Linked DNA regions of Homo sapiens. The protein of the gene in region 1 purifies or fractionates together with the protein of each later gene. This does not show direct contact. Each region holds a gene or a part of one and is shown in the gene's direction. Other genes may lie near its edges.

Region 1 (3,822 bases):
GCAGCCTTCAGCTGCTATTGGGGATCGCTCAGGAGCGTCCCCTAGTGCACGGTGCCCTCTTTGGCCAAGGACAAAGTAGTGGGGAGGGGCTACTATAGGCCGAGACCCTGGAAATGGACCAAAGAAATGGGGATGAGATCAGTGCAGCTCTTGCTTCCCCAGGGCAGCACAGGCCAGGGCAGGGAGGCTGAGGAGAAGCGGAATGATACTGCTAGAACCTCTTTTCTCTCCTAAGGATTAGCACAGGGTGGGCTGTGAGGAAGCATTATAGGCAAGGCCTGTTCACGCAAAGAATCATGAGCCAACGAAGTCAAGAACAGGAGCCGGCCTCTTTTCAGGCCAGGACTCAGGGCTTTCTTGGTGCTCCTGTGTAGGTTGGGGTTTTAGGATTGCCAGGCCTCTTACCTAATGGACTTGTGGATTGGAGCAAGGCTGGATGGTCGGATTCCCAAACATTGGTAATTGGCAAAGCGTCAAGGGTCATTTGAATAGCACTAGAGTTAAATTTCTTGTCTGTGCCAGGACTCAAGTATCTCGGTACTTGGGGCCTAGCTCTGCTCATAGACAGACTAGAGCCCGGGCGCGATGGCTCACACCTGTAATCCCAGCACTTTGGGAGGCCGAGGCAGGAGGATCACCTGAGGTCAGGAGTTCGAGACCAACCTGGCCAACATGGCGAAACCCCGTCTCTACTAAAAATACAGAAATTAGCCAGGCATGGTGGCGTGCACGTCATCCCATCTACTCAGGAAACTGAGGCAGGAGAATCACTTGAACCCAGGAGGCTGAGGTTGCAGTTGAGCCAAGATCGTGCCACTGCACTTCAGCCTGGGCAACAGAACGAGACTCCATCTCAAAAAAAAAAAAAAAAAAAAAAAAAAAAAAAGAGTAGGGACTTCCTGCAAGGCAGTGGGCCGGTGTCATGAAGCACACAGAGACTCTTCTAGATTTAATTGGGATTTAGGAGATTAAAGCAATATGACAAATAAATACAATCTTGATCCTTGATTGGATTCTCCATCAGAGAAGGGAGCTATAAAGGACATACTGGAGATAATTGAGACATTTTTTAAATGAATGGCTGTGTTAGGTAAGCTTATTGAATCAACGCTGAATTTTTTGTGTACGATACCGGCAGATGGCTGTGTAAACAATGTCCTTATCCTTAGGAAGATGCAGGCTGAAACATTTTGGGATGACATGTCATGATTCAAATAGTTACATGCACACACACACACAGTGTGTGTGTGTATAGAGAGAGAATGCAAAGATGGCAAAATGTTAACCATTGGTGAATCTAGGTGAAGGGTGTATGGTATTCATTGTATTATTATTTCAACTTTTCTGTAGGTTTGGAATTTTTCAAAAGAGAATGTTGGAACAAAGAAGCCAACATTCTTCTTTGGGAAATTTCTTGGGAAAGGGGTTGGTTTTTCAGACACTCTGGAGGTGGTGGTCTGAGTGGGTAGCACAGCCTTCATCTGTCTGTCTTAACCATGTGACTTGGCCCTGGTTCCCCTGAAGTCACCCTGCTGTCAGGTCCACCTGTGTCCTCTGCCCTCACCAACCTGTTCACCATAGGTGTGGGCTCTGGAAGCTACAGAGACCCCAGCCTTCCCAGAATGACCCAGGAGCAGGTGAACTTCCCCATCATCTCTCCTGCCTTTGTGATGGCAGTGTGGTCCTTTTTGATGGCAGTGTGGTCCTTTTTGATGGCAGTGTGGTCCTTTTTGATGGCAGTGTGGTCCTTTGTGATGGCAGTGTGGGCCTCTGTGACGGCAGCGTGGGCCTCTGTGACGGCAGCGTGGGCCTCTGTGATGGCAGAGTGGGCCTCTGTGATGGCAGCGTGGTCCTTTGTGATGGCAGCGTGGGCCTCTGTGACGGCAGCGTGGGCCTCTGTGACGGCAGCGTGGGCCTCTGTGATGGCAGAGTGGGCCTCTGTGACGGCAGAGTGGGCCTTTGTGATGGCAGCGTGGGCCTCTGTGATGGCAGCGTGGGCCTCTGTGACGGCAGCGTGGGCCTCTGTGACGGCAGTGTGGTCCTTTGTGATGGCAGCGTGGGCCTTTGTGATGGCAGCGTGGGCCTTTGTGATGGCAGTGTGGTCCTCTGTGATGGCAGTGTGGTCCTTTGTGATAGCAGAGTGGGCCTTCGTGATGGCAGTGTGGTCCTCTGTGATGGCAGTGTGGGCCTTTGTGATGGCAGTGTGGTCCTACTTTCTGTTCTCTTAGCAAAATCTCAGAAGCCAAGTAGTGGAGGGCCAAGTAGATATTTGCCAGTTGTTTATATCACTTTAGGTCCTTGTCTTTAAGCAGCTTAGGCTGATATATCAAAATACCACAGACTGGGTTGCTTAAACAACAGGCATTATTTCCTACACTTTTGGAGGCTGGGAAGTCCAAGATGGAGGTGTTGGCAGATTCTGGTTTTGGTGAGGGCTCTCTTTTTGGCCTGCAGACAGCCACCTTCTTGCTGTACTTTCACATGCCAGAGAGAGAGGGATGTCTCTTCCTCTTCTTATCAGGGCCCTCATAGCATTGTAGGGACTCCACCATCGTGACCTCGTCTAAATCTCACCTCCCAAAGACCCCCACCTCCAGATACCATCACACTGGGGGTTAAGACTTCAACAGATAGATTTGCAGGGGACACAAATATTTAGTCCAGAACAGGCCCAGTGACTTACTGGGGAAAAAACTAGAAATAATCCAAATGTTCATTAATTAGCACATTGGATTCATTAGCAAATTAGTATGAAATAAGTAAAAAGGTAGAACATAAAATATTGTATTCACAATAACTATAACGATATAGAGCAACTGAATAGAAGATGCCTTGGAGGGCTGTAAGTAGAGTTCCCTGTTCAGTAGTTCCAGTGGGTATTTTTTTGTAAAGTTGTTTGAGTGCCTAACTTAATTTTTTTCCATATATGAAAGAAGTCCAGGGGCTTTCCTAATAGATAAACTTTGTTCTTTCAGAGAGAAAGAGCCTTGGTTACAGACTAATGTCAGCTAGAATTTTCTGCTTAGCAAGAAGGAGTATGTTTTTAAAGAATATGTCTTGAGAAAAAAAGCCACCTAGCTTTGGAGAGCTAGAAATGAAATGGTGAGCATGCAGACAGTTTCCTTTTTGTAGCCCCGCTCTTTCCCACTCGGCTCAAACCACACTGTGGGAGGAGGGAGACCAGCTTGGGCCTCTGGTAAACCGTCTTCCAGAGAAATGCCAGATCCCTGATGGTTAGGAGTATTTCTGGAACAACCTGCGTTTGGCCACACTGGGCTTGCCACTGTTAAGGACAGATGTATGGAACAGGATGAGGAGGTCAGGTTCAGAAGCCCCTTCTCTAAGGGGACCTCATGCAGAACTGTTTCCAGCATTCTTTTTTTTTTTTTTTTTTTTGAGACGGAGTTTTGCTCTTGTCGCCCAGGAGTGCAGTGGCGCAATCTCAGCTCACTGCAACCTCCACCTCCTGGGTTCAAGCAGTATTCCTGCCTCAGCCTCCCAAATAGCTGGGATTACAGTCATGCACCACTATGCTTGGCTAATTTTTGTATTTTTAGTAGAGGCGGGGTTTCGCCATGTTGGCCAGGGTGGTCTTGAACTCCTGGCCTCAAATGATCAGCCTGCCTCGGCCTCCCAAAGTGCTGGGATTACAGGCATGAAAAAAAAAAAAGCTGGCCGGGCGCGGTGGCTCACGACTGTAAACCTAGCACTTTGGGAGGCCGAGGCGGGCGGATCACGAGGTCAGGAGATCGAGACCATCCTGGCTAACACAGTGAAACCCCATCTCTACTAAAAATACAAAAAATTAGCCGGGCGTGGTGG
Region 2 (3,822 bases), on another chromosome or scaffold:
AGAAAGAGAGATGAGGCACAGCTAAGAGTTCACAAGCAATATTACTTCCAGCTTAGAGACTTGGAACAAAGCTAGGAAAGATTATATTTGAACTCGTCTTGAAGTACAGATAGAATGTTGAAGACAGTAGGGTGAAAGGACATTTTAGACGTTGTGACAGTGGTGCTGTAAGAACAGAAAACTAGAAAATAAAAAGGAAGAGGCCAGAACAGAAAACTAAAAAATAAAAAGGAAGAGGCCCTTAATGCCAGACTAAAAAGTTTAGACTTTATTCTGTAGGCAGTTGTGATTATTGTTATGTCCTACCTTGTGTTGGTTGTGGCATGTACTTCGAAAGGAGAAGCATTGAGCAGCCATATATTAATATACTTAAGTAAATAGGAATTTGCATAGATATGGGGGTGAGGGACATCATAAGCAGTTGTTTCTCCCATTCTCAAGTATAATGGCTGTAGAGCTCTGGTCAGCCCACTATCAAAATCAGAGCATATTGGAACCTAATAGGACATTTTGAAATGGCCCTATTGGCTTCCTTTCTCACGTCTCAACTCCACCCAAGATTAAAGTATTTCAATCTTTTTCCCCAAATGCTGCAGTGGTAGAAACATTCATTTTGTCTGCTCGGGCAATGCCCATTTCATCTTCAATATCAGATGTGATATAATAAATATCTTTATGAAATAATTGAAAAAACTAGGCATTTGGGGGAACACCAAGTAAACTGTAGAAATAATGAGAAAATATTACTAGAACAGAATAAATTAATTTTTTGTTATACTTACAACACTTTAAGATGGTATCAAAAAAATTAAATGCTGAAAAAGATTAGCTTGTATTTTGTAACTATAAAAGAGTGAAGCTGACTCGTTATGAGTCCCAAAACAGAGCTATTTGGTATTATTTTTTATTTGAGAAGTAATGGAGCATTTTATTGTAAAAAATGCAGTTTAAAACAAAATTTTATCTTTAGGAAATGTATCTAGTGATTTTAGAATGTTTTAGTTCAATACATTGGTTATTCCTCTATTTCTGGTTGGGAAAAAAGCTTTACCCATGGAGTTAAGGGTAGTTACATTATTTAGAAGATTATCTTTAAAGCGTATATCAAAATGATAACTATAATTTATTTAAATTGGTCCCTTAGTGATGAATCCAGATGACACATTTGAGGTGTTAGTTGATCAAACAGTTGTAAACAAAGGAAGCCTCCTAGAGGATGTGGTTCCTCCTATCAAACCTCCCAAAGAAATTGAAGATCCCAATGATAAAAAACCTGAGGAATGGGATGAAAGAGCAAAAATTCCTGATCCTTCTGCCGTCAAACCAGAAGACTGGTAAGCAAATAATTCGGTAGCAAAGCATTATCTGGCATAACTAGGTAATGAAACAACATATAAGTGAAGTTTACAACCCATGAAGTTTATTTTTTTAAACATCAGAACTACTTATTTTTAGTATTTTGGGTGAAATATTTTCTAAAATGGATTTTACACTTCCCTCCCTGTAATTTTTTTTTATTTCTATTGATAATTATGTTGCATTTTTTAATATATATTTATTTTTTATGTTTTCAATGCTGTGGATTAAAAATTTCATAAATCCAAAATACCAGTGCTTTAATTTTCATTCCTAGTTTGATCTTTATTGTATGTGTGTGAGAGTCCGAGGTGGGCAGATCACCTGAGGTCAGGAGTTCGAAACCAGCTTGGCCAACATGGCGAAACCCCGTCTCTACTAAAAACACAAAAATTAGCGGGCATGGCGGCGGGTGCCTGTAATCCCAGCTACTCGGGAGGCTGAGGCAGGAGAATTGCTTGAACCCAGGAGGCAGAGGCTGCAGTGAGCCCAAGGTCGTGCCACTGCACTCCAGCCTGGTGACAGAGCAAGATTCTGTCTCAAAAAAAAAAAAAAAAAAAAAAAAGAGTATGTTTGCCCTTAAATGAGAGAAACCACATATAACTGCTTCATTCTGATTGTTGAAATGTGTTAGAATTTGTTTTACAAAGTACTAAAAGAAATGCTCCATTAAATTTTAACTTTTGGTTACTCTGAGCACTCAGAAACTCAAGATGACATTGGTATCAGGCAAGCACAAATCTATACATTTGTAAAGTTGATTATTTCTGTTTATTTTGTAACTCATTTGGAAAATCATGAAGTGTCCTCTTGTTTAAAATTTCTATCTTTCTGTAATGATGAAAATTGTATTAGTAGTTCAGTACTTTATGTTTATATACTTCAGAATTTACTAAGTGTTTTGTTTTTGTTTTTGTTTTTGTTTGAGATGGAATCTCGCTCTGTCACCCAGGTTAGAATGCAATGGCGTGATCTCAGTTCACTGCAGCCTCTGCCTCCTGGGTTCAAGGGATTCTCCTGCCTCAGCCTCATGAGTAGGTGGGATTACAGGCAAGCGCCACCACGCCCGGCTAATTTTTGTATTTTTAGTAGAGATGGGATTTCACCATGTTGGTCAGGCTGGTCTCGAACTCCCGATCTCGTGATCCTCCCGCCTCAGCCTCCCAAAGTGCTGAGACTACAGGCTTGAGCCACCACGCCAGCCTAAGTGTTCTTTTTAAAATAAGAATGCTAGAATTAAATAAGGAGAGTTTTAAAAATTATATTGGAATAGGGAAGAACTTTCCAAATATGACATAAAATCCAAGAATCCTTTAAAAATAAGTTCAACTACATGAAAATAAATGATTTGTATATTGCAAAAAAAAAAACCTCCCTAAACTATTTCAAAAAACACACAAGAACCAGGAAAAATTATTTTCAATCATATAGCTGACAGAGAGCTAATTTCTTAGTATAAAGGTAATGAGCTAAGAAAAAATAGTTTTTGTGTATCACTTATGCTACTAAATGTACATTCAAAGTTCAGTGAGATACCATTTTTCACCTACCACATGGGCAGAAATCAAGAAGTTTGGTAACACTCTTCGCAAGGACAGGAGAAAATAGGTACTTTTGCATGCTGCTGGTAGAACCGGAAGTGGAGTGTAACCATTATAGAGAGTAATTTGGATGCTACTATCAAAATTTAAAATGTCCATACTCTTAACAATTATATTTTCACAGATGAGAAATGGCATATATTCTAGGACATTCACTATGGCATTGTTTGTATTAATAATAGTAAAATTTTGGAAACACTAAATGTCCTCCAAGAGGAGATAAGCTAAATAAATTATGGTGTATCCTCAAGTAGAAAACTATGCAACTGTTAAGAATGAAGCTATGTGTATATATATATATGTGTATATATATATATATACATATATATATATATACATATATATATATATATGTATATATATATGCTCCAGCCAGGCATGGTGGCTCATGCCTGTAATCCCAGCACTTTGGGGGGCTGAGGTGGGTGGATCACCTGACGTTAGGAGTTCAAGACCAACCTGGCCAACATAGTGAAACCCCATCTCTACTAAAAATACAAAAACTTAGCCAGGCGTGGTGGCAGGTGCCTGTAATCCCAGCTACTCTGGAGGCTGAGGCAGGAGAATTGCTTGAACCCGGAAGGCAGAGGTTGCAGTGAGCTGAGGTCGCACTATTGCACTCCAGCCTGGGAAACAAGAACAAGACTCCACCTCAAGAAAAAAATAATAATAATGGAGCTCCTCGAACAGTCTTGACACATAGTAAGCATGCAATATATATTTGTTGATGAATGACTGAGTTTTTAAGTAACAAAAGCAAGGTCTAATACATTATGTATAGAATGCTATCATTCGTATTAAAAAAAAGAATGTATACGTGTGTGCATGTATGCATAGAGCACAACAGGGAATATGTACCAAAAAT

What was found.
Region 2: the proteins of MXRA7 (region 1) and CLGN purify together in Homo sapiens (co-immunoprecipitation; one large-scale study listed by IntAct). This does not show direct contact.

What each region holds. Positions count from the first base shown.
Region 1 is NC_000017.11:76,704,356-76,708,177, reverse strand, and holds part of MXRA7 (matrix-remodeling-associated protein 7), read left to right. Parts: intron 1-3,822.
Region 2 is NC_000004.12:140,396,363-140,400,184, reverse strand, and holds part of CLGN (calmegin precursor), read left to right. Parts: intron 1-1,144; coding exon 1,145-1,334; intron 1,335-3,822. UniProt on the Homo sapiens protein: Functions during spermatogenesis as a chaperone for a range of client proteins that are important for sperm adhesion onto the egg zona pellucida and for subsequent penetration of the zona pellucida.